Homo sapiens: one gene and its partners. The protein of the gene in region 7 interacts with the protein of the main gene of each other region in a pairwise test. Each region holds a gene or a part of one and is shown on either strand. Other genes may lie near its edges.

Region 1 (3,500 bases), on a different chromosome or scaffold from region 7:
TGGCAGCTTTACATCTCAGCATTAACAAACTGTAAGTCAACTGTTTAAATGGATGTTATTCTTAAAAGATAATGTAACAAATGAACTCATAAAGCAGTAGCAGATACATCAATATCTTCCCCACCCCAGACTGACAAATACTCCACTACAGCACAGACAGCCAAAGCAACAGCAACACAAAGTTTCACCGCACAAAGGAAAACCAGAAAAGAATCCTCCCTTCCCCATTACACTCTACTAGGTCACCCCTTTTCCATAAGGTTTGTCATGCAATTACAATTAACAATTGATCATAAGAGTAAAATGATGTTTGTGTTACTTTCTCCATCTAGAACTAAGATCTAGAAGTGTTAAAACTCTTGTTATTTTCTCCAAGAGGACATTCTTAAAGCCAGACCAAGTTCCCTTTTGCAATAGTAATCCAAACCAAAAAGCTCTGAGCATCAGGCAACTCAAGCAGCAGAACGTTAAAACAAGTCCAACTTGACTACTGATCACAAAAAATTTATATGATATTGCATTCTTGATCAAAAACTAATACAGAGGTTGCTCTAAGGTGGTGAGTAAAAAGACGCAGAGGCTTTCAAACAGGATGGTTTTATTCCTTTGTTTTTAAACGATCTTTCTACAGTAGTGGGACAGGAAGCAGCAGCAAAGAAGGGAAGGAGAAAACAGTTTAGAATATACAGCACTTCCTTTTGGGTTGAGTTTCCGGAGGCTCGAGGGCAGCTAGGATAGCCTCATCAAACACATTCTTCAGACCTCTCTACAAGACAGAGGGGAGGAGAGAGAATAGCAGCCAGGTTAGAGGATTAGAAAGACTAGCAGGTACAACAGCAGTCCGGATTAAATGAGCTGAATTCACAGAAGCAATGTGCCTTAAGAAAAACGCTAGAATGCTAGATCTTAAGCCCATTATAACCAGGAGAGTAGATAACTGACCAAAAACTTCACCTCAAGCAAGGTTAACTGAGCAGGAAAGCAATTTTTATTAAAATGCAATATGTTGACTTCTAACACATTTTGGAAATAAATCTATTACAATTTCAGGCTTATGTGAATTCAGCCCCTGAATAACTGAAGGACACAAATAGCAGACTAACAGGCATGCTATGTGTTTCTAGGTTCAATGACATATCTGAATGTGATTAATCAAGATTTCAGAGTAAACTGGTTTCCCAGAACGGAAAGGTTCAGACATTTAAAAAGTGTTAATTGTGCAACAGTACCAACTAGAAGGACTTTAAAGAACAGACTCTAAAAACAGCATACACTTCAGTTATTCAGCAATGTTATTAGAGCAAGTAACCACCACCCAAGTCATAAGAAAACAAAGAATGGGGTCCTAGAATGAGTTTTAGCAAGCAGTCCAGTGCTTTAAGATGTCTGCATGGGTATCAGAGCATAAAGCATGGAGTGAAAACGAAGAATATTCTCAGATCTTACGGGGATTAAGATACAGAAATACACTTACACCTCAGCCAGAAACTCCAACATGACAGTGTGACTCAGCATTGGTGGTACTTAGGACCCAGGTCTACAGACTCACCTAAAATCACCTAAATCTGAAGCCACAAGTTTACCACCCAAGGTTGTTTCACATGTTCTTTAGTTTGATCAGTTTGATCCCAAGTAAATATGTCCTAAAAGTCCCAGAACACAGCTCCAATTGTAAGTGCCAACCCCAGACCACCCCAAGTGTTCCCACCTCCACCCTGCCCCCATCCATGACATCCCACAGGACTGGTACCCACATGTCACATTAGACACAAAATAAATCAGAAACAGCAGTAAATTCTTTAAAAGCAGCAAAAGTTAAAAAGCCTTCCTCTTTCTACATCATTTACAAAGTAGAAATGCCACATAAAAGTTAAAATTCCACTGCAATTCTTTCTGCACATCTAGGAACCAACTCTGGCAGTAAAATATAAAAGGAAGGAAGGAGTACAGAAAGGGAAATATACTTTATAAGGAAAAAAAGAGGAGGAGGACTATTAGAAACTGGAGTGTATCCCTTAACAAGAAGGAATTCCTTTCTTGCTTACCATGGACGAAGATCAACAAATGCTCTATGAAACAAAACTAATCTTTGCTTGACCACCATCTGTTTATATTAAGACTTTAGTTTTAGAGGAATCAACAAACAGAATCTGTAAGCCTCAAAGTTCTAGCTCCCAAACACAACCACAGACCCCATTTTCTAACTTCCCCTCTTTTGACTTCTCCATACTTCAAACTCTGGTAAGAAAAATGTACCTGCTAAGACCTTTTAAACTTCATACTCTCTACAAACGGATTTACTATATACACCTGTTGATACTGTAAAAATCTTACATTAAAAGCATCCAATTATCTAAAGCATCACTAGTAACCTAAAAGTGAATCCACAGGGCCTATGTGTCTTCCCTCAAAGCAACCCATATCTAGAGAACAGAGGTATGCATCAGAAGCACACAGAATTAGTGTCTAACATGGACATGAGTGTTTCACACATGACTTTCCCTTGTCTCCCCCAATATACACACACAGGCACACTTTTCTGGGAATGTTACTAAAACACACAGAGAAGCACCAGGCATTTTTTAAAACTCTCAAAACAGTTGCTATGCATGAGAAGGTGTAAAATCTTCTAAACTTTTAAATAACTGCTTCTATAATAGCACTAAACTGCCCAAAAAAACGAGGATTAGAAGATTATGTTTAAATCATCTGATACTAGGCCTCGAAGTTATTTTGAGGGATATCCCAGTTAAGCATAAAAGTTTTATCTGTAAATATCCAACCAAGTACTAAACTTACTATTAAATTATGCACTAGGCCCTATAAACTAAATACCTAGTGCATATGTAATAAGTAATCATATATGCCATTTACCCTAGTATACACGTAGTTAAGAATCCAATAGTGTTTTTTAGAAACACAATAAAAATGAATGAATTACCTGAAAACATAAGCATAAATATAATGAGTTTAATATAATTATTAGAAACCTCCACCCTTCAATCTTGCCCTATTAGGCATGTCTGCTCAGTGTTCAAACTTCAAAGCACCAGTACCAGTAGAACATAAAACTTTTGTGCTAATTATTTCCATAACCTTTTCCTTTGCCCCCAGAACAGTACTCAAAGGACGGAATCAGCGATATCATGAAGGTGAAAAAGTTTAAACCATACACATCAGTTACAAGTCCCATTCCAAATACCCTAACATTGCTCCCTATCTTCAAAATCTGAGTTTCCCATCAAACTACAAAAGGAGTTCCAATTAAATCACTCAAAAACGGCCGGAATGCATGAGGAAGGAATACTTCCAAAAATATAGGAATAGGGACACTATATAAAGCACGCTTGAGAACTGTGGCAGAAATAGCCATGGCTGCCTTCTTTGACATTAAAGTCTCAATTATTATGACTAATTCCCTATCCTGGTTGAATTGCCCAAGAAACAGTATAGTATCAATTGTCAGAATTGGCAAGAAAAGATCAGACATATTCAGATGA
Region 2 (3,500 bases), on a different chromosome or scaffold from region 7:
TGTCTCAAAAAACAAAACAAAACAAAATGATATAACTTTTAGAAAAATCGCAAGAGAAAATCTTGAGGATCTAGAACTAGGCAAAGACACCAAAATGGAACTTTATGAAAATGTAGCACTAGCCTAGGGTGAGTGTGGATGTATCACTATTTGTGGATGTAGAAACAGGAGTAGATGAGGGTGAGTCACTTGTCCTGCCTGCCACAGAGCGAATCAGTGGAAGGGCTAGGCTTTGGCTCACAGCCCACACACCTAGCACTGGGATGCACCGAGGTCACCACCACGCGCCTTTGTCTTCCCTGCACACCAGATGCAGCCAAACACCAAAGCCCAGGTCAGTGGCACCGGAACAACACATCAGTTTAGAGGATTTCTGATGTTATTCCACTTTGGTTATTGGCAGTAGAGATGGTTCTATCTAATGACTAAGAACTGGTATGTAGGATCATGATAACTTACAATAATGCCACCTTTTTCTCTGAAAGTCTTCATTTTCTCTGCTCTAGATGGTAAAAGCAATCCAGGTTTTGCGCATTCATCTTCTTGAGCTGGAAAAGGTTAACGAACTCTGCAAAGATTTCTGCAGTCGATACATTGCTTGTCTGAAAACAAAAATGAACAGTGAAACTCTGTTGAGTGGAGAGCCTGGAAGCCCGTACTCACCAGTGCAGTCCCAGGTACTTACATTTGGGGGTCTCGCTTTCCCTCTCTGCCACTGTGAACATCTGCATTGAGTCATGAGACCACCAGCTCTTTCAGAATTCACTGGGTCATCTTTATGACTTTCTACAAGAAGGACCCTCTAGGTCTCTGACCCCAGCCTGGTTTGGGAATGAACTCCCTCAGATTATGAAGTGAGTCCTCAATCTGCATACTGGGCCCCCGGTCCCATGTTTATGGAAGGCACAATTCCATTCATTTCTTTCTTTTATTTCTTCTGAAAATATTTTACTTATTCTTTTGAAAAATTGTGTAAAATACACATAATATAAAATTTACCATCTTAGCTATTTTAAAATTTACAGTTCAATGGTGTTAAGTTTATTCACATTGTTGGGCAACCATCAACACCATCCATCTCCAGAACTTTCTCATCTTCTCAAACTCAAACTCTGACCCCATTAAACACTCATTCCGGATTCCCCCTCCCCTAGCCCCTGGAACCCACCGTTCTACTGTCTGTCTCTGTGAATTCGATGACTCCAGGTCTCTCATGTTAAGCGGAATCGTACAGTGTTTGTCCTTCTGGATCCTTTGCTTGTTTCATTGTGCAGAATGCCTGGAGGGTTCATCCATGCGGAAGCACTATTGTGTTTTAGCCATTCTGATGATATGTAGTGATATTAATATTTCTTTGTGGTTTTAATTTTCATTTCCCTGATGGCTAATAATGTTGAACATTATTATACCCTCTGTGTATTTTCTTTGATAAAATGTCTGCTGCTTATGTCTTTTGCCTTTTTTTTTTTTTTTTTTTTGAGACAGAGTCTCGCTCCATCACCCAGGCTGGAGTGCAGTGGCGCGATCTCGGCTTACTGCAAACTCCGCCTCCTGGGTTCATGCCATTCTCCTGCCTCACCCTCCTGAGTAGCTGGGACTACAGGTGCCTGCCACCACACCCGGCTAATTTTTTGTATTTTTAGTAGAGACGGGGTTTCACCGTATTAGCCAGGATGGTCTCGATCTCCTGACCTCGTGATCCGCCCGCCTTGGCCTCCCAAAGTGCTGGGATTACAAGCATGAGCTACCACGCCTGGCCGTCTTTTGCGCATTTTTTAGTTGGATTTTTTTTTAACTTCTGAGTGTTGAGAGTTCTTTGCTTATTGTAGATACTAGTTCTCTGTTGGATATGTGGTTTGCAAGTGTTTTCTCCAAGTCTATAGTAGCTAAGTATTTTTCTCATCCTCTTAACAGGTCTTTTTCAGAGCCAGCCTTTTTAATTTTAATAAAGTTCAATTTATTAGGTTTTCCTTTTATGGATCATTCTTTTGGTGTCAAGTCTAAGAACTCTTTGCCTAACCCTAGGTCCCAAAGACTTCGTCTTAAGTTTTTTCCTAAAAGTTTTTAAATAGAGACAAGGTCTCACTATGTTGCCCAGGCTTGTCCCAAACTCCTGGGCTCAAGTGTGAACCACCATGCCTGGCCTCAAAAGTTTTATAGTTGTCCATTTTGCATTTAAATCCGTGATCCATTTTGAGTGGATTTCTCTATAGAATAACTCTCAAAGCTGGGCACATTGTTTCCTCCCACCCTGTGATTCCTTTTCAAAATTGTTTAGCTGTTCTGGTTCCTTTGCCTGTCCACATAAATTTTAGAATGCTCTTGTCTAGAGCTACAAAAACATCTTGCTTAGATTTTGATAGGAATTGTATTATACCTGTATATCAATCTGGGGAGAATTGACATCTTTACTGCATTAAGTCTTCCAGTCCACAGGTATGGCATGTCTCTCCATTGATTGACAACTCTGATTTCATTCATCAGTGCTTTGTAGTTTTTGACACATAAGTTGTGTACATGCGTTTTTAGAATTATACCCAAGCATTTCCTTTCCTGGCCTGTGCCATCTCGAATAAGAGTGGCAAGAGCAGACATCCTTGCCTTGTCACCGCCTTAGGGGACACCTTTCAGTCGCTCACTGTCGATGATGTTGGTTGCAGGTTTCTTTCTAGATGCTCTTTATCAAGTTAAGGAGGTTATCCTATATTGCTTTTTTTCTGAGAGATTTTATTTTGTTCAATTTTGTTAAATGCTTTTCCAGCATTGATTGATATGATTATGTGATTTTTCTTCTTTAGCCTGTTAATAATGGACATTACATGGATTGGTTTTTTGAATATTGAACAAGCCTTCTATTCCTGGAATAAACTCCACTTGGCCATGGCACATAATTCTTTTCATATGTATTCTTGAATTCTATTGGCTAATATTTTGTTCAGCATTTTTGTCTATATTTGTAAGGGATATTGGTGTATAGTTTTGTTTTTCATACTGTCTTTGGTTTTGGTATCAAAATACACAAACTTACATAAAATGGATTGGGAAGTATTCCCTCCTCTTATTTTTTTCTGGAGATTATGTAGACTTGGTGTTATTTCTTAAATGTTTGAGAAATAGAATTGATCTATTTCACCTAAGATGTTAAATTTAGGAGTTTAGAGTTGGTCTAGTATTCTCTTCATAGCCTTTTGGTGTTAGCAGGGTCTATAGTGATCTCTTCCTGTTTTATTTCTGATATTGATCTTTTGTGTCTCTATTTTTTTTTTAGTCAGTCTTTCTAGAGGTTTATGTAATTTTCAAAGAACAGTATTTTGTTTTATTGATTTTTTTGGTTGTTTTTCTGTTTTCAGTTTCATTGATTTCACCTTGATCTTTATTATTTCCTTTCTTCTGCTTTCGGTTCATGATGTTCCTCTTTTTCTAAGATCTTAAGGTGGAAGCTGGGATGATTGATTTGACTAGCTTAACTTTTATTACAGCCTAATTAATGTGGCAGGCTT
Region 3 (2,787 bases), on a different chromosome or scaffold from region 7:
ATTAGATGTTTGACTATTTAAACAGGCAAAACTAGGAATACATTTCTGCATATATATCAATTTTACATTCTTAGAGGGATCAGAATGTTTGATTGCAGTCAACTACAAAGAGATGGTCATTGTTTCTCTTCCTACATGTTAAAGTATCTGAATGGAGATAGCTCCAGAAAATAGTCCTGGATTGCATTTCCTGAAATAAGGAGACATTTTCAGTAGGTTAACCAGAGGATTGGATAGTAGCCACATACCAGGTTTTGAAGGTAGTGATTGTTCCTCAGGGGTTATGCTTTACACAGCTCGGATTTCCTAAAAGATAATCATTACATGAAGTACTTTAACTCAGTAGCATTTAGTTGTGGCTTAGAAATGCTGATATCATACACTTTATTTTTCGGTTCTCTTGTTTCTTACTCCCGTCTCTACTTCTCCAGCTTTAGAATTTGAGTCATTTAAGTATGTGTTTGCTTCATTCCTGTTTGGGGGCTGATTTGTACTCTTCAAAGAGTTTTGTCAGCTTTAGATCTCTGAGGGATAGATTGCCAGAGAAGGGGAAGTTTCAGTCCAGGCATATGTGCAGAGCCTTGATCAATTGAGGAAAGGAAAGGCTGTTTTACACAAGAGAGAAGCTGATGTTGTTTATGCACTTCCTAGGTAGTTAGAAACAAACCTGTGGCAAGGCAGGCTCCTGGCAAACGGAAGTGCAATTGTCGGCAAGAGATGCGGACCACCCAGCTGGGCCCTGGGCGCTTCCAAATGACCCAGGAGGTGGTCTGCGACGAATGCCCTAATGTCAAGTAAGTGAAAGCACCTTCTTTGTTCTACCAAGAAACACTTGTTAATTTCGTTCATCTAGTCAAACACTAATGGTCCATACTAGATCTTTCTCTGTCCCCTCCCCACTGCCATGTTCTGCAAAAGGATAGAGCAAAACAATGTACATTTTTTTCTGAAGTATTTGTAAATATCTCCTTTTATGTTTCTGAACTAACAAGCAGTGCCCTTTATTTCTGATACATTTTCAACAAGTATTAATGCTTCATTTTCTTCCTTCTTGTACTATTAGAGCAGCCTTATATGTTTATAAATGTATAGTAGCTTCACCCTGGATTTTAGCATATAGAAGATGTAAATGATTATCAGATAGTTTTGTCAAGTAGAGGCACACTACAGTCTTCCAAGAAAAAGCTCTGATAAAATAGGTATAACTTTATCTATATCTGATGTTTTGTTTATATTTTCATTATTTTTCTCCTCTTTTAATTCTCTTTACCTCAGACTAGTGAATGAAGAACGAACGCTGGAAGTAGAAATAGAGCCTGGGGTGAGAGACGGCATGGAGTACCCCTTTATTGGAGAAGGTGAAATATTGATATTTGATTTTTTGATTGTGATAACTTTTTGCTCTCTGCTTGTTTGTGAATACCTTTCACCCCTGCCTTACTCCATCTTAATGTTCACATAGTAAACGCATATATAATTTCCAACACTCTTCGGCCAATTTTAGGATATACAAAGCCTTTTGTTTACCTGAAGCAGTAGCATTACCGTTTATCCTTTGAATGTCATGGCCAAAAGTTATTATGAGGTAGCCTAAGTTTCATCAAAATTTAGGGTGTTCAGACCTTAATGAGTTTTAATTCAGCAATGAAAGAAGATATGTAACTCTAGTTGGCATTAATAAGATGCTCTCAGGACCTCACCTTTAGACTTAAGTTTAAAACTCTAAAAATAAAAAAAGCTTTAAGACTTAGGTTCAGGAGACCAGTGTATCATTCTTTGTTTAGGAAATGGGTCAAGTTATGTACTGCTGTATCTGAGGCAAAGGTGATGATTTCTAATAATCTGAAACTTGATACAACCAGGCAGAGACACTGCCGTCACAGATTTGACAGGTCAATGCCCAAAGTAGTGGATTAAAAAAATGTATCAGTTGCCAAATAGATTTGTGGTATTCAACTTGTATGATTTACAATATGCTGTAATCTGCTCTGACTAGGTGAGCCTCACGTGGATGGGGAGCCTGGAGATTTACGGTTCCGAATCAAAGTTGTCAAGTAAGTAATCTAATTTTAGAGGTCTTCTCAGATGAGTCAAATTATAGAGACGTAGGTGGCCACCAGAGCAGTTAGACTTTTTTCTCTGTTTCTTACCCTTATTACCCTAAACGATGATTTGTAACTCCTCTACAAGGCTGAAAACTTGGGGTTGGGCCCTAGGATTGAGCCCCAGTTATTTATTTACTTAGGACTTAAAAATGCAAAAGATGTTGAAAGGAAATAATTGATAAGTAAGGAGTTATAAAAGAGAAACAAACAAGATAGGGAGTCAAAGCTGAGATTTTAGCTGAAGAAGTATGGCACCATACAAGAATAGGAGACTTTTCCATAGACAGAACCTTCTACATAATATGCAGCTTCTGTAAAGAGAGCTTTTCTTTTGTGAGCTTCTCTTCAGCATGAAGTGCTGCTTAGACAGTTTTGCCTGGGACTCCAGCTTTCTTGATTACTGTTGCTCTCTTGTTACCACTTTGGAAACCAGTAATATCTCTGCCTTTGTAAGGAGTCATCAAAACAGGGTTCCCACCAGAATATGGAGAAATGGCCCCCCACTGTCTGGGACTTTGCCTTCCTGCACTCTTTAATCTCAGTGTTGTTTTCCCCAGCTTCTTTACCTACCTTGTCTTTATCATCACTTCTTAGAGAAACTGGAACATGTGTTGTTTCCTGAATAAACCTGACACCTTCCTTGTCTTTGCCAGAATTCCTTCTCACTCTATTTCCCCTTCCC
Region 4 (3,500 bases), on a different chromosome or scaffold from region 7:
GAAAAAATTCAGAGTATTAATGTAAATGTAAAAATAATTTTTAGGCCAGGCGTGGTGGCTCACACCTGTAATCCCAGCACTTTGGGAGGCTGAGGCAGGCGGATCACAAGGTCAGGAGATTGAGAACATCCTGGCTAACATGGTGAAACCCTGTCTCTACTAAAAATACAAAAATTAGCTGGGTGTGGTGGTGTGCACCTGTAATCCCAGCTACTCGGGAGGCCGAGGCAGGAGAATTGCTTGAATCCGGGAGGCGGAGGTTGCAGTGAGCCAAGATTGCACCACTGCCCTCCAGCCTGGCGACAGAGCAAGACTTCAACTAAAAAGAAAAAAAAATAATAATAATAATAATAATTTTTGGCTGGGCACGGTGGCTCACACCTGCAATCCCAGCACTTTGGGAGGCCAAGGCAGGTGGATCACCTGAGGTCAGGAGTTCGAGACCAGCCTCAACATGGAGAAACCCCGTCTCTACTAAAAATGCAAAATTAGCTGGGCGTGGTGGTGCATGCCTGTAGTCCCAGCTACTCAGGAGGCTGAGGCAGGAGAATTGCTTGAACCTGTCAGGCAGAGGTTGCAGTGAGCCGAGATCGCGCCATTGCACTCCAGCCTGGGCAACAAGAGCGAAACTCCGTTTCAAAATAAATAAATAAATAATAATAATAATAATTTTTAAATAGCATAGTTTCATCATAATGATCAAGTGAAGGTGCAAAAAAACATGGGAGGAAACCTCCCCACCCCTACAAATTGGCAGGTGATGGTGGGGATTAACCAATAAAAAAAAGCCCATAGGAGAAAACAGTTATTGTCAACCTTCTTCCTAACCCATACCACCCCTGAGGTTCCATATTCCTTTGGAATAGTTCCCTAGGTATAAAGGAGCTCCCGGACTCCTTTCTAATGCCACTTACAAAAAAAGTAAGAGGTGGTCACAAAATTTAAATGGCACTAACTAGAAGTATGGTGTGGTGGCCACGTATTCCTTTTTTTTTTTTTTTTTTTGAGACAGAGTCTTGCTCTGTCGCCCAGGCTGGAGTGCGGTGGTGCGATCTCGGCTCACTGCAACCTCCACCCGGGGAGGGTTCAAGCAATTCTCCTGTCTCAGCCTCCCTAGTAGCTGGGATTACAGGCGCACGCTACCACGCCTGGCTAATTTTTGTATTTTTAGTAGAGATGGGGTTTGGCCATGTTGGCCAGGCTGGTCTCGAACTCCTGACCTCAGGTGATCCACCTGCCTCAGCCTCCCAAAGTGTTGGGATTACAAGTGTAAGCCACCGCACCTGGGTGGCCATGTATTCCTAATCAAAAGTCTAGACACATGATTTGACAAATGGGAGTATATGTAAAGGGCCAATGGGCAGTGTTTAAACTGTCCTTCTCTTAACAGTCTTGGCTAAATACATGTTATACGTGGCTCTCGCACTGAAAACAGGAGGGTGATTCTCAAGGGGACCTCCACGTCACAGCTGAGGAAATACACTTCCCTAGGAACTGAGGAAAGAATGCCCAGTGCTTATACAAATTCCCCTGTTCCAAACTACACAATAGTAACCAACATAAAGTTACAACATAAAGGAGACATCTTCAGAATAGACAACAGATTAGAATGAAGTAATTACTTACCAGAGTTTTAAGAATAATCTTAACTGGCAGATAATGTCTGGATGTATCAATCAAAATTCCTCTGTGAGAAAACCTTGGAGAATCAATAATGGTGGATTCATTGATGGTGAACTATGACAAAATAAAATTTTGATTTAGTTTTAGAATTTTCTGTTGTCTTGAACTCAATGAAGACTAAATCTATTTATACAAGCATTTCATAAAATATTAATTTAGAACAACAAAAATGTATGAAATTTACATTTACCGGCTAAGACAAATATCTGGGGAAATGAAATCTTCAGGAAGCAATAGCTAAACAGGTTACATTTTTTTCTATTAGCAATTTGTCTAACAATTTTTAGTAACATATAATAATCATACTTACAGTTCCATAAGAATCTTGATAAACTAACTGGCTAAAGGTCTCTAAACCTGAGGAAAGTAAAATTTATTGCATTAATTTATAAATCAACAAATTGAGATGATAAAAGTTATATTATTCAAACAGACTCATAACCAGGTAAGGCAAATATAATTGAATATAGTGTTATACCTCTATCCTCTAAAATATATTGTTATACCTACACCCTCTACCATAATTTCTAAAATCAAAGCCAAATTAAAAAAAAATCCATTGCACTTCTCTACTCATCTAATAAAAGTGCTTTACTTCATTGTACCCATACCCTGGGGGTTGTTTCAATATAGACAAAAGAAGAATAGTAATTTAATAAAATACTGGTTCCTTAATAAATTTATGGCATCATGAGAAAGAATTTTTATAATCAAATATAGTCACTTTTAGAAGGTATCTAAATGCAACAGGGAAAAATGGCTGGAAAAACCATGAAACTATAAATAAAGGCCAATTTACAATATACAGCATTTTACTTATAGCTGCAAAGACTACCTTCTGAACATTTTTTACTCAAGTGGATTATTCCCTTAATATACTAGTTGACAGGCTAATTCTTCTAACTGGCCTTGACTTTATTCAGATTCCTCATTCTAGCTGACAGCTATATAGCCAGGGAATTTTTAACCTAAGAACAGTTCAGTCATCTTTGCTACGCCTTCCTGTCTCTCCAACCTCGTCAAGTACAGGTTCATGCTGGGAAGAATAACTCTGAAAGTTTCTGTTAAGTGACATTACGTTCAATAATGATCAGTTTAGAGTACATTACTCTGAAAGTCTGATGGTAAACAGAAAATATGGACTTCTTGGACTAGAAATCTAGTCACTGCATACTCGCAAGAGTGGTTTTATCTTTTTTTTTTTTTTTTTAGACGGAGTCTTGCTCTGTCACCCAGGACGGAGTGCAGTGGCGCGATCTCGGCTCATTGTAACCTCCACCTCCCGGGTTCAAGTACTTCTCCTGCCTCAGCCTCCCAAGTAGCTGGGACTACAAGCGTGCACCACCATGCCCGGCTAATTTTTGTATTTTTAGTAGAGATGGGATTTCACTGTGTTGACCAGGCTGGTCTCCAACTCCTGACCTCAAGTGATCCACCCACCTCGGCCTCCCAAAGTGCTGGGATTACAGGCGTGAGCCACCGTGCCCAGCCTTGCTAGAGTTCTTTATTTTGGTATGGATCAGAACAAACATCAATAAGCGTCTCTTGGCTGGGCGCAGTGGCTCACGCCTGTAATCCCAGCACTTTGGGAGGCCAAGGCAGGTGGATCACGAGGTCAGGAGATCGAGACCATCCTGGCTAACACAGTGAAACCCTGTCTCTACTAAAAATACAAAAAATTAGCCAGGCGTGGTGGCAGGCGCCTGTAGTACCAGCTACTCGGGAGGCTGAGGCAGGAGAATGGCATGAACCCATGAGGCGGAGCTTGCAGTGAGCTGAGATTTCACCACTGCACTCCAGCCTGGGCAACAGAGCAA
Region 5 (3,500 bases), on a different chromosome or scaffold from region 7:
AGACACAGGTGAGAAGGGGGAAAAAAAGAAGAAAGGTGAGGGTGTGCCGGCCATCAAGGGCTTGTTCTGTGACTCTCAGTGCCTTCCTTAACCTCTGTGAGCTTTGGTCTCCTCTGGAAAATGGTGCTCATATTTCCTGTTTGTCCCCCTGCCTATCGACACCACAAGGAGGCTTATCTCAGCCCTGGGATGTGCCCCATGGGGCCACTACAATTGCTATCCTCATTGAACTGGACACAGGCAGCCTCTACCCCAAATCTTGCTGAGTTGAAGATAGGGGTTAAGAGGAGAAGCCAAGCCACTGGCCTGCTTTGAGCCCTAGCTCTGCCATTCCCATGCTGTGTGACCTTGATCAAGTGGCTTAACCTCTCTGAACTTCGGTTTCCCCATGTGTACAACAGAGACCTTTAGTGATGATTCTCTGAGACAACTCCTCCCTCCTTTTCCAGGAAGCCCTCCCTGCTGTCAAGTCAAGTCGGGGAGGACATGGGGCTTACTTCTTGTAGAGCAGGATAGCAATGACAATGCAGATTATGAAGACCACGGCCAGCACAGGCCCGATCACCCAGATAAGCCCCTCCTCGCCATCCACGATGGGCTGGGGGTCCGGGTTATCCAGCTGGAAGGGGTCTGAGAAGGGACTGGCTGCAAAGGTCTGCAGGGAAAGGAGGGGGGTCTCCATCAGTGTCCACCCTCCTTGTAGTGGCCAGATGGGTCTTTCTCAAACATGAACCTACGTTTCTCCCCCGCTCTAGATCCTCCTATATTCCTAGAACCTTGACCCTGGTGGCCTATGTGACCTGGTCCCTGCCAATCTTTGCTCTCCCCATTCCCTTCTCTGCTCCAGCCACTCTCCTTTCTGTACCTCCAGACCTTTGCACATGCAAATCCTGGGATGCTTTTTCTTTGTTGAACTCCTACTCACCCCTCAACGCCCCAGCTCCAAGGTCTCTTCCTCTAAGAAACCTTCGTTTCAGGATCCCTCCGCTCCCAAGTCTTCCCCTCTGCCCAGCTCTGACCACAGGGAGCTGCCTGTGACTGACCACAGAGGTCAGGGCCCTGGGGAATGGGGTCTGCCTCATTCAGAGGTGTGTCTGGATGTGGGCGGACACCATTCAGGACTTACAGGCTCGCTCTTCTGAAGCACGGCAAGCACGAAGAGGACATAGCGGTGGCCGGGCTCCAGGCCCCGGTTATCGAAGCCGCCATACTGCTTCTGGTCGCCGGGATGGAACGTGGGTGGCAGCACAGAGAAGCGAGCTGCAATATAGGGCCGGGGCACCTCCAGCTGACGCGAGTGCCGCAGGCTGCGCCTCTGTAGCCGTGAGATGTCCTGGATGAGCTGCGGGAACAGAGTCATGGGTGGCTCAGAGCTCAGCTGGGAGCAACAGAGCACGTGAAAACTGGAATGCATCTGGGCCCTGCGGGTTGGGCCCCAGGCCCTCACCTCTTCCAGATCCATGTCCTCTGGGCTACCCAGCGGGGTCAGGAATTGGCCTCCACGAGACTTGCGCAGTGGCACCATCACAATGAAATAGCTCCTGTAGGGAGATGGGAAAGAGTCAGAGGGGCTGTCGATAGGGATGACCAAGGGATGCTTCATGGGGGCAAACGGGGGAAGCCGTTTCTCTGAGTCTTCCCTTCTGTTCATACAATGAGCCTATTCCCCTATGCCCCATCCACAAACGCCACAGTTGCTGACTCAGGCCTCCAGGCCTTGGATGATGCTGTACTTTCTGCGTAGAAGGCTTACTTCATGTAATGCTCATTGTTAAACTCCTATACATCCTTCAAAGCTCCAGCTTCAATGCCCACATAACCTTGTAGCCCTTAAATCTTCTCTGCCTCTGAGGCAGAGTGCTCCTCTCCCCACTGGGGACTCTCAGCTTTGCCTCCCCACTAGTTGGGAAGCCCAGAACCAAATCCTTTCAGGGGCCCTAGTAATACCCAGTGGAGGGTCAGGCATATGGGGTATCAGGAAATGCTAGAAGAGCAGACACAGGACACATTTAGTGACAATGACCCATGAGAAGCATTGAATCTTGGATGACCCCATGAACTAGGGCTGATAGGGTCTGTGTTTCATAGGCAAGGAAATTGAGGCACAGAGAGGGCACGTGGCTTGCCCCAGCCATATAGTAGGCTGATGGGGGTGACAAGGAACCCGGAGCATGGGGGTGAGCATACTGGACAGGCACGGGGCTCTGGCCGTCAGGAAGATACACCATGATGAAGCCGTCAGCATCAGGCTTGGGGGCGACGCTGGGCTTGCCGTTGAGCAGGTTGAAGGCAGTCCAGGCGGTGACCGTCTGCTGGAGGCCGCCCAGGCTGCTGCCGCGATTGGTCAGCACAAAGTTGTAGAAGGTGTGGGGCTTGAGGTGCGTGATGAGCTTCTTGGTGGTACGGCCATCCACATCCAGTGTGAGCCCATTGTACTGGATCTGCGGACCAGGGCTAGCTCAGCAGGGCCTGGTGGGCTCATGCCCATGGACTGAGCCCCAGCTCCAGGATGAGTCCCCCACCCTGACTGAGCCCTGATCCCACTGAATCCTGCCCTAGGCAGAAATCTAACACTGACTGATCCCTGATCCCAGGCTGAGTCCCCAACTCTGACTGAGCCCCAACCTCACTGAACCCTGACCCCAGACTGTGCCTAAATTCCAGCTGAGTCCTGATCCTAGGTAGAAGCCCACTTTGACTGAGCCCTGATCCCATGCTGAATTCCCAGTCCCGACTGAGCCCCAATCCCACTGAACCCTGAACCCAGACTGATCCTGAATTCCAGCTGAGCGCTGACCCTAGGTGGAAACCCACCTCTGAGACCTGATCCTAGACTGATTCCTGATCTCAGACTGAACCTCAATCCCAGGCTGACCCCCGATCCCAGACTTGGCACCAACTCCAGACTAAACTCTGACCTCAGGCTAAGTACCAACTCTGAGTCCCAATCCTGATTATGCCTCAGTCCCAGCTAAGCCATGATCTAAGGCTGAGCCCCAACTCTGATTTCCAATATGGACTAAATCTTAATCCCAGACTGAACCTCAATCCCAGCTAAGCCACAATCCAAGGCTGAGCCCAACATTGATCCCCAATATTGACTGAACCTCAGTTCCAGCTGATCTCCAATCCTAGGCTGGGCCCCAAGTCTGATTCCCAGTATTGACTAAGCCTCAATCCTAGCTGAGACCCATCTCTGACTGAGCCCTGATCCCTCACTTCACACCAACTCCAAACTGAGCCTTAAGCCCTGCTGAACTACAACCCCTGACCCTGCCTGCCTGCCTGCCTGCTGGCTGGGCAGTCGCACCTTGTAGGGTGTGGGTGAGTTGTAGTTGTCAGGGAACTCCCAGCTGAGCAGAACTGATGTCTTCATGATCATTTTCACCTTGAAGTTCTTGGGCGAGACTGCCGGGGAGGCGGCCGAGCAGGGAGAGAGCAGAAGAGAGGCCCCATGAGTGCCTGGCACTGGGTGGCGTGAAGCGGGGTGGGGTGGGGCG
Region 6 (3,500 bases), on a different chromosome or scaffold from region 7:
TGAGATTACTTAATAATATGTGTTAGGTGGTAGAAATAAAGAAATCTTGTACTATTTCAAACTGCAAACTGAAGTTTTCAGTGATGGATTTTTCTTTTCTATCAAACTACAAATAGTTTAAATGTTTTCTAATACAATAAGCCTCAATTACCCAGACCACTGGGGAACGGAGAGCCACTGGTTAATTTAATTTTCTGGTTTGCTGAGGGTGAACTGAAAGCCCTCTTTATGTCTCAACCTTGTTACTGACAATCTTTAGAAAATGTGTGAGTCTATTTTTCTGCCTTAGTAGCTACAACATGGTTAATGTTATTGAATCTTCCTCTGATGATTGAAACTATTGTGATGTGTCAGGACTGATTCAAATAGAATTGAGTGTGAGCAGTTGATGCAATTTGTGCTAAGTCCCAGGCACAGTCTGAGAATTGCCTTTTTGAGTAAGTTCCTGATTTCAACTTATGCATGCATCTCAGCATCTCTTTCTGTAAAAGTTTAGTGCAAAAACAAAAACTCTGATTAAAAAGAGAGAGAGAGAGATTTTAGTGAATGAATCTAGTTGACTGATTGATGTTCATTCATTCATTCATTCATTCAAAGGCCATTTGTAAAGTCAGAGGCAGAAACCTTCCCAAGATAGCTGCAGAAAGACCCAGGCTAATATTTGTGCCTGTTCAAGGGTGGCTATTGTGGGTAGGGCCATAGCGAAGGTTGGACCAAAGACTCCAGCTGCTGGCAGGGACACTGGAATGTGGTCTAAGCCAGGTGTCCCCAGGGGACATCGCTGAGTGTAAGCTCCCCCACAGAGGTAGTGCTCCAGCCTTGTAGGGGCTTGAGAGAGGGTGCTGCTACCCAGGATCAGGATGTGCATGGTGCATAATGATCCACAGCTTAGGGGGTCTAATCAGCATGGACTCCATTCCCAGTTTTAGACCCTCAGCACTCAGAGCAAACACTCTGCTTGGCTGCTGCTTCCCTCTTCATCCTGGATCACCTTCTAGGCCCCAAGTCTCAGCTTAGACCTTGGAGAGTTCACCTGGGTCCAATACTCTCTAGTGCTGATTTCCTCGAGACATTCAAGGGTAGATGGAGTAGCAAAGAGACGGAGAGGTCTGCATAGCCTGCAAGTCCTCTGCGAAGGCAGCCCTGACTCTGTCTTTTCCCCTGGTCAGTGTGGCCTTGGAGGCAAGGACAGTGGATTGCTCCACTCACCAACCCCAGCTTCCACTTTGTTCCAGGGAACCAGCTTGGACTAACACTCTCTATCACTCATTTACTAGAGACTTTCATATGTGGTCTGGAGCATCAAGGTAGAAAAGTAAATCAATGGAAGGCTACTGAGCAGGTGTGGGGCTAGCCCCTTAGTTCTCCACTAACTAGTTGCCATCTTCCTGTTGGGACTATGACTTTTGAACCACGAGCTTAAGGTACAGAAGCCTCTTGTACAATTTTTGTCAGGCTTACTGCCCTATTAATTCAAATAATTTGTAATTTATTTGAAGTTTCTATGTATAATATATCAACTGAGATCTGAAAACAATGAAAATGGGTTTCATGCTTTAAAAGAGAAAGGAAGGAGCCCATTTTAGGAAGATTCTCATCCAGAATGAAAGAAACAGAAGGGACCAGATTTTTTAAAAACTAAAATACTGTGAAAGATTGATAAATTTAATTAAATAAGATGTGCAACCTCTGCTTGGAAAAAAATACTTTTGGCCAAGTCAAAGGACAAAGAACGGACTGGGAAAATATGACCAGACAAAAGGCTAATCTACCTTATGTGAAAAACGTCTTAGAAACTGACCAAAAAGAACAAAAACCCAAAAGAATGTGGACAAAGAATGTAAAAAGACAGATCACAGAAAGAGAAATACAAATGTTATTTCAAACATGAAAATATATTCAGCCTTACTTATACTAAGAAAAATGTATATTACAACTACACTGAGATACAATTCCTCACCTATCAGATTATGAAAACCCAAAAGTTTACCTATAGTCCCAGCTACTTGGAGGCTAAGGCAAGAGGACTGCTCGAGCCCAGGAGTTCTAGGCTACAATGTATTATGATCGCACCTGTGAACAGCCACAGCACTTCAGCCTGGGCAACACAGCAAGACCCCATCTCTAAAAAATGTTTTAAAAACCTAAAAGTTTGAAAATACCCTCTGTGCCAAAGCTATGGAGAAAGAAGTTCTCATACATTCCTCATGGAATTGCAAAATGGAATTCAATTAGTAATATTTGTCAAAATTTAAAATGCATTTATATCTGTCTCAGAAATCCTACTTCTGAGAATTCATCCCAAAGATACACTCGTACCTGATGAAGTTGTGTATGCATTATACAACATTGTTTGCAATAGCAATAAACTGGAAGCCTCTGTTTGTTGTGGTGGGTACAAATATACAAACAATGGAATGATATACAGCTGTTAAATAAAATGAGAAAGTTTCCTATATACTGAAATGAAAAGCACTCTAAGCTGCAGAACCATGCTGTCTCATGTAAAACAGAGAGGAAATTTAAAATACGTATTTTTCTTTTCTTACATTGTCATAAAGACTGAAATAAATAAAAACAGTGCAATATAAAAAACAGGTAAACAACTTGCATATGTAATTCACAAAAGAAGAAAAATTAGTGGCTAGTACACCTAAAAAAATATTGAGTGTCTATTATATGCCTGGGATTTTAGAGCTGAAAATAAGGGATATTTTGCTGCTACTATTTTAAGCTCAGACAACACATTTATACATTGACAAGGAGAGAGAAATCTAAGTCAAATATCTTTATATTTTAAGGCATATAAGAGTAAGGAGATGGGTAGAGAAGGGCAAAATATGTTTTGCTATTTTTAAAAGTAGACTTACTTTAATTGCTGAATATAGGGAATAGCCATAATGCTTCTTGAACTCTGTTCGAATGTCCAAAAGGTCAATTTCTGATCTGGACACCATTATTCGGTTCAGAGTAAACTCATCAGTTCCAATACCCTGTTAAGGAATGCAGGTGTTCACAACACAAATGTCATTGGTCACAAAGCAACATAGAGATCTATATTTATAAGAATCAGATAATGGTGTGCAAAATATTCAACTATAGTGATTCTTTTTCATTTATTATCAAACTCATCATTCATTATTCAAGAAATATTTGTTGAGCACCTACTCTGTGACAGCATCATGCTAAATGCTGCAAAGCAGAGATGAGATACCCATGTTAAGCTTCCAGTTTTGTAAAGAATACAGGCAAGAAAGTAAGCCATTGCAAAACAGTCTGACATGTTGAAAATATTGGGTACCATGGGAGCATACTTCAGGGGGGCCTAAGAAAGATTAGGGATTAGGAAAAGTCTGAGAAAGTGACATTTAAGCAAGGACTAAACAGTCAACAAGAGGAAGGAGTAGGTTCATGTAGGGAGGAGAGAAACTTCCTATAGAGGAAATAGCAGGCGTGAAGGTTTAGGGCAATAAAGAACGCCACGTTCAAGGATACGTAAG
Region 7 (3,500 bases):
AAGCTGATTGAGCTCGAGTTTATGTAACTATTCTTGTCCAATCTGTTCTTTTAACAATCTCTTATGGCCTGGCTTTTTGTGCTTTTTTTTTTTTTTTCTGTAATGGCAACCTTACTGGTGTAATTAGTAGTCCAAATATATTTGGATAGTTCTTATGCTTATGTACTAAGCAGCTAAAGAGGGAATATTACAGGATGGTTAAAAGTACAGACTCTGGAGATGAAATGCTTGTCATGGATCTCTGAATCTGTCACTTGCTAACTTTCTGATTGGGGGACAAATTAACTTCTGTCTTATTTTTCTTTTTATCATCTGTAAAATGTGGTATACCTTCTTCATAGGGTCATTGTAAAGGTTAAATGAGGAAGACAGTGCTTCCTGACTTTTTTCACATGGCACATATAGAAAATGATGAATTTTTACAGGTGGGTAAAAGAATGAGCTACAAGGAAATCCTACATAGACCTTGCATGACCGCCTCCAGGACTGGTGGAATCAGTAGTCCAGCTATACTTCCCGCTCGTTAATGGGCCACAAGTATATCATAGGATACATGTTGAAGAGCTGTGAATTCATTCATGAAAAATATTTTAAATACATAGCAGAAGTTTAGAAAGCCTGAGTCATTGTTTCATATAAGTAGAGAGGACACTGCAGTAACTAAAGAACTGCCATTCCTGCCAGGCAAGAAACTCAGCATCTTAAACTATAGACTGTCTGTCCTAGAGGTATTAAAGTTTTCATACTTCATAAAGGTGTTAAACATTTGCATCTGTCTTTCAGATATTGTTCCGGTATCTTACAACTTTTAGTCAACACGCGATTAGAGCTCAGTTAAGAGCTCATTAAGTCTTTGGGCTACATATTGCTTATTGATTGTGGTTATCATTTCACTACCTAATTCTCACTTTTGTCTATAATTAGGGTCGTCGGGCTGTTAAAGCGGGAGCTTATGCTGCTTGCCAGGAAGCAAAGGAAGATATAAAGGTAACTTTCTGAATTAGGGGGAAAAAGAGAAGTTAAAGATGAATGTACATTACAAGAGCCCAAGTAGAATAATTTGAGTGATGATGTCGTTGAAGTGGTTTGGGGCACCTAGATGCAGAGATTTGGAACTGGCAGGGTTATGTGATTTCTTCATTTGAAGTATAAATCCCTTAACTAAAAGCAAATTTTAAATGCTATTTTTTTGGTTCGTTCCCTTCATTTGTAGAGTCATTCAGAAAATGTCTCTCAACATCCACTTCATGTAGAAGTATTACACTCAGAGATTATGGCTCATCAGAAATTTGCTTTGCGTCTTGGTTCCTGGATGAACAAAATTATGAGCTATTCAAGTAAGCATACCTCCTGTTTTTCTTGTTTCTGATAAAATACTATGTGTTTTATAGCCACAAATTTTAAAATGTCATTGAGTATGAAATAAAGTTTTTCTTTTTTTTTTTTTTTTGGTTTATACACTTTGATTAATTTTCAGGGTTGCATTTCAAATGTATAATATCTTAGGATATTATTTCAAGTGCATAGTATCAAATAATATCTTTTTATTGGCTGTTGAGTCTTTGATGTTGACAGAATTATTCTTTGCCTCAAATGTGGGAGGATTAATATTATTCTTTTCACATGTTATAGGAAATGTACTTTTAGGAGAAATGTTATAAGAATAAAAATTATGGCTGAGTACAGGGGCTCATGTCTGTAATGCCAGCACTGTGAGAGGCTGAGGTGGAAGGATCGCTTGAGCCCAGGAGTTCAAGACCAACCTGGGCAACAGAGTGAGACTCATCTCTATTTAAAAAGAAAAAGAATACAAGTTGTGTAACTGTGTGACCTCTTTTGTTTGTAGGTGACTTTAGGCAGATCTTTTGCCAAGCATGCCTTAGAGAAGAACCTGACTCGGAGAATCCCTGTCTCATAAGCAGGTTAATGCTTTGGGATGCAAAGCTTTATAAAGGTAAGTAGACATTTGCTTATGCTGTTTGTCAGGAAGCAAAGGAAGATTATGACCTTAAAGTGGAGCTGTAATATCTTTTGTTTATTAAATTAGTTATTAAATCTGTAATCTTGATTGATAAGATACTACATGTGAATATAAAGTTTAACCAGTCAGTATGTATTCTTTGGTGTTAAAACCCAGGGATGTTGTCTTTTAATTATAGAGTCTTTTCATTTAGTGAGAGCCAGTCAAAAAGAGTATATATGTATGTGTCTATACATGTATCTATATATTCAGGTAGTAGTGCCATTATCGAGTAGCGAAAAAGATGCTATTTTCATTGTAAAAATCTAAATGAAGAACAAAACGTAAAAGGCTAAAAGCATGGAGAAGGAAAAGTACAGTGAAATAGAAAAAGAATGAAAAGGTTGGGAGAGAGTAAATTGAAGTGTAAGATGAAGTGGTGGGAGGGGTGCAGAAAAAGAGGGAAAAGGCAATATATGTGTGTATTTTAAATTCCAGTTATTAAATATTAATACAATAAATACTATTTGAGGTCTGTTTGCATGTGAAGTAATTTTATAATATTCTGCCACTCTAATAGCCAGAATGTTTTTGGTTTTTGCCTTGGTGATTCTCCTCATTCCCCCACCCTCCCCAAAATAATCTATAGGTGCCCGTAAGATCCTTCATGAATTGATCTTCAGCAGTTTTTTTATGGAGATGGAATACAAAAAACTCTTTGCTATGGAATTTGTGAAGGTAATTATTTATAAATTAGATATCAATAAATAGAAATAGGCAGTTTTTATAAATGAATTAATAGAAACAGGGATAATTATGAATCAAAAATTAAATGTTATGATTTATTTCTTTGTCAAAAGTTTGTTCTTGGCCCTGCGGGTTGGCTCACGCCTGTAATCCCAGCACTTTGGGAGGCTGAGGTGGGTGGATCATTTGAAGTCAGGAGCTCGAGACCAGCCTGGCCAACACGGTGAAACCCCGTCTCTACTACAAATACAAAAATTAGCCAGGCATGGTGGCAGGTGCCTGTAGTCCCAGCTACTCAGGAGGCTGAGGCAGGAAAATCACTTGAACCTGAGAGGCAGAGGTTGCAGTGAGCCAAGATCGCGCCACTGCCCTCTAGTCTGGGCAACAGAGTGAGACTCCCATCTCAAAAAAAAAAAAAAAGTTCGTTCTCATACGTTATATAAATATTTTCACAAATGTTATTTGCTAGTATAGAAACAGCATTCTTAGAGAAGAGATAGGTGGAAAATGACCCACTGACCCAGAGCAAAGGGAGGTTATCACATTCACATATGCATTCAGTCTTCCTAATCATTTATTTGCCTGTTAGTAAAATTACAATAAGAATAGAAGTGACTAATTGAAAAGTATAGCAGGAAAGAAGAACAGATGTGTATGCTAAAGTGGGGGGCAGGAATTAGGTGGCCAAGAGTTCTACTTAGTTTTTGGAAGCTAAAGCATAAGGCTAAAATTTACAGCTTTTTAATGTTTTATTAATCTATCGTGTATCTCTTACCTTACTGTATCTTTTTGT

What was found.
Region 1: the proteins of UBR1 (region 7) and CDC42 interact in a two-hybrid assay, tested with the Homo sapiens proteins (one large-scale study listed by BioGRID and IntAct).
Region 2: the proteins of UBR1 (region 7) and PKNOX1 interact in a protein complementation assay, tested with the Homo sapiens proteins (one study listed by BioGRID).
Region 3: the proteins of UBR1 (region 7) and DNAJB11 interact in a two-hybrid assay, tested with the Homo sapiens proteins (2 studies listed by BioGRID and IntAct).
Region 4: the proteins of UBR1 (region 7) and HEXB interact in binary tests that used the Homo sapiens proteins (3 or more experiments, as listed by UniProt).
Region 5: the proteins of UBR1 (region 7) and PTPRS interact in a two-hybrid assay, tested with the Homo sapiens proteins (one large-scale study listed by BioGRID and IntAct).
Region 6: the proteins of UBR1 (region 7) and ANXA3 interact in a two-hybrid assay, tested with the Homo sapiens proteins (one large-scale study listed by BioGRID and IntAct).

The regions. Positions count from the first base shown.
Region 1 is NC_000001.11:22,087,209-22,090,708, reverse strand, and holds part of CDC42 (cell division control protein 42 homolog isoform 1 precursor), read right to left. Parts: intron 767-3,500; coding exon of another isoform or gene 677-766; exon of another isoform or gene 1-676. UniProt on the Homo sapiens protein: Plasma membrane-associated small GTPase which cycles between an active GTP-bound and an inactive GDP-bound state. In active state binds to a variety of effector proteins to regulate cellular responses. Involved in epithelial cell polarization processes.
Region 2 is NC_000021.9:43,012,562-43,016,061, forward strand, and holds part of PKNOX1 (homeobox protein PKNOX1), read left to right. Parts: intron 1-506; coding exon 507-677; intron 678-3,500. UniProt on the Homo sapiens protein: Activates transcription in the presence of PBX1A and HOXA1.
Region 3 is NC_000003.12:186,580,720-186,583,506, forward strand, and holds part of DNAJB11 (dnaJ homolog subfamily B member 11 isoform 1 precursor), read left to right. Parts: intron 1-651; coding exon 652-794; intron 795-1,275; coding exon 1,276-1,358; intron 1,359-1,996; coding exon 1,997-2,054; intron 2,055-2,787. UniProt on the Homo sapiens protein: As a co-chaperone for HSPA5 it is required for proper folding, trafficking or degradation of proteins.
Region 4 is NC_000005.10:74,695,233-74,698,732, reverse strand, and holds part of HEXB (beta-hexosaminidase subunit beta isoform 1 preproprotein), read right to left. Parts: intron 2,041-3,500; coding exon 1,994-2,040; intron 1,738-1,993; coding exon 1,627-1,737; intron 1-1,626. UniProt on the Homo sapiens protein: Hydrolyzes the non-reducing end N-acetyl-D-hexosamine and/or sulfated N-acetyl-D-hexosamine of glycoconjugates, such as the oligosaccharide moieties from proteins and neutral glycolipids, or from certain mucopolysaccharides.
Region 5 is NC_000019.10:5,218,813-5,222,312, forward strand, and holds part of PTPRS (receptor-type tyrosine-protein phosphatase S isoform 1 precursor), read right to left. Parts: intron 3,409-3,500; coding exon 3,311-3,408; intron 2,442-3,310; coding exon 2,188-2,441; intron 1,542-2,187; coding exon 1,448-1,541; intron 1,343-1,447; coding exon 1,127-1,342; intron 656-1,126; coding exon 498-655; intron 1-497. UniProt on the Homo sapiens protein: Cell surface receptor that binds to glycosaminoglycans, including chondroitin sulfate proteoglycans and heparan sulfate proteoglycan.
Region 6 is NC_000004.12:78,603,770-78,607,269, reverse strand, and holds part of ANXA3 (annexin A3), read right to left. Parts: intron 2,994-3,500; coding exon 2,871-2,993; intron 1-2,870. UniProt on the Homo sapiens protein: Inhibitor of phospholipase A2, also possesses anti-coagulant properties. Also cleaves the cyclic bond of inositol 1,2-cyclic phosphate to form inositol 1-phosphate.
Region 7 is NC_000015.10:43,057,539-43,061,038, reverse strand, and holds part of UBR1 (E3 ubiquitin-protein ligase UBR1), read left to right. Parts: intron 1-924; coding exon 925-987; intron 988-1,213; coding exon 1,214-1,337; intron 1,338-1,846; coding exon 1,847-1,954; intron 1,955-2,609; coding exon 2,610-2,698; intron 2,699-3,500. UniProt on the Homo sapiens protein: E3 ubiquitin-protein ligase which is a component of the N-end rule pathway. Recognizes and binds proteins bearing specific N-terminal residues that are destabilizing according to the N-end rule, leading to their ubiquitination and subsequent degradation.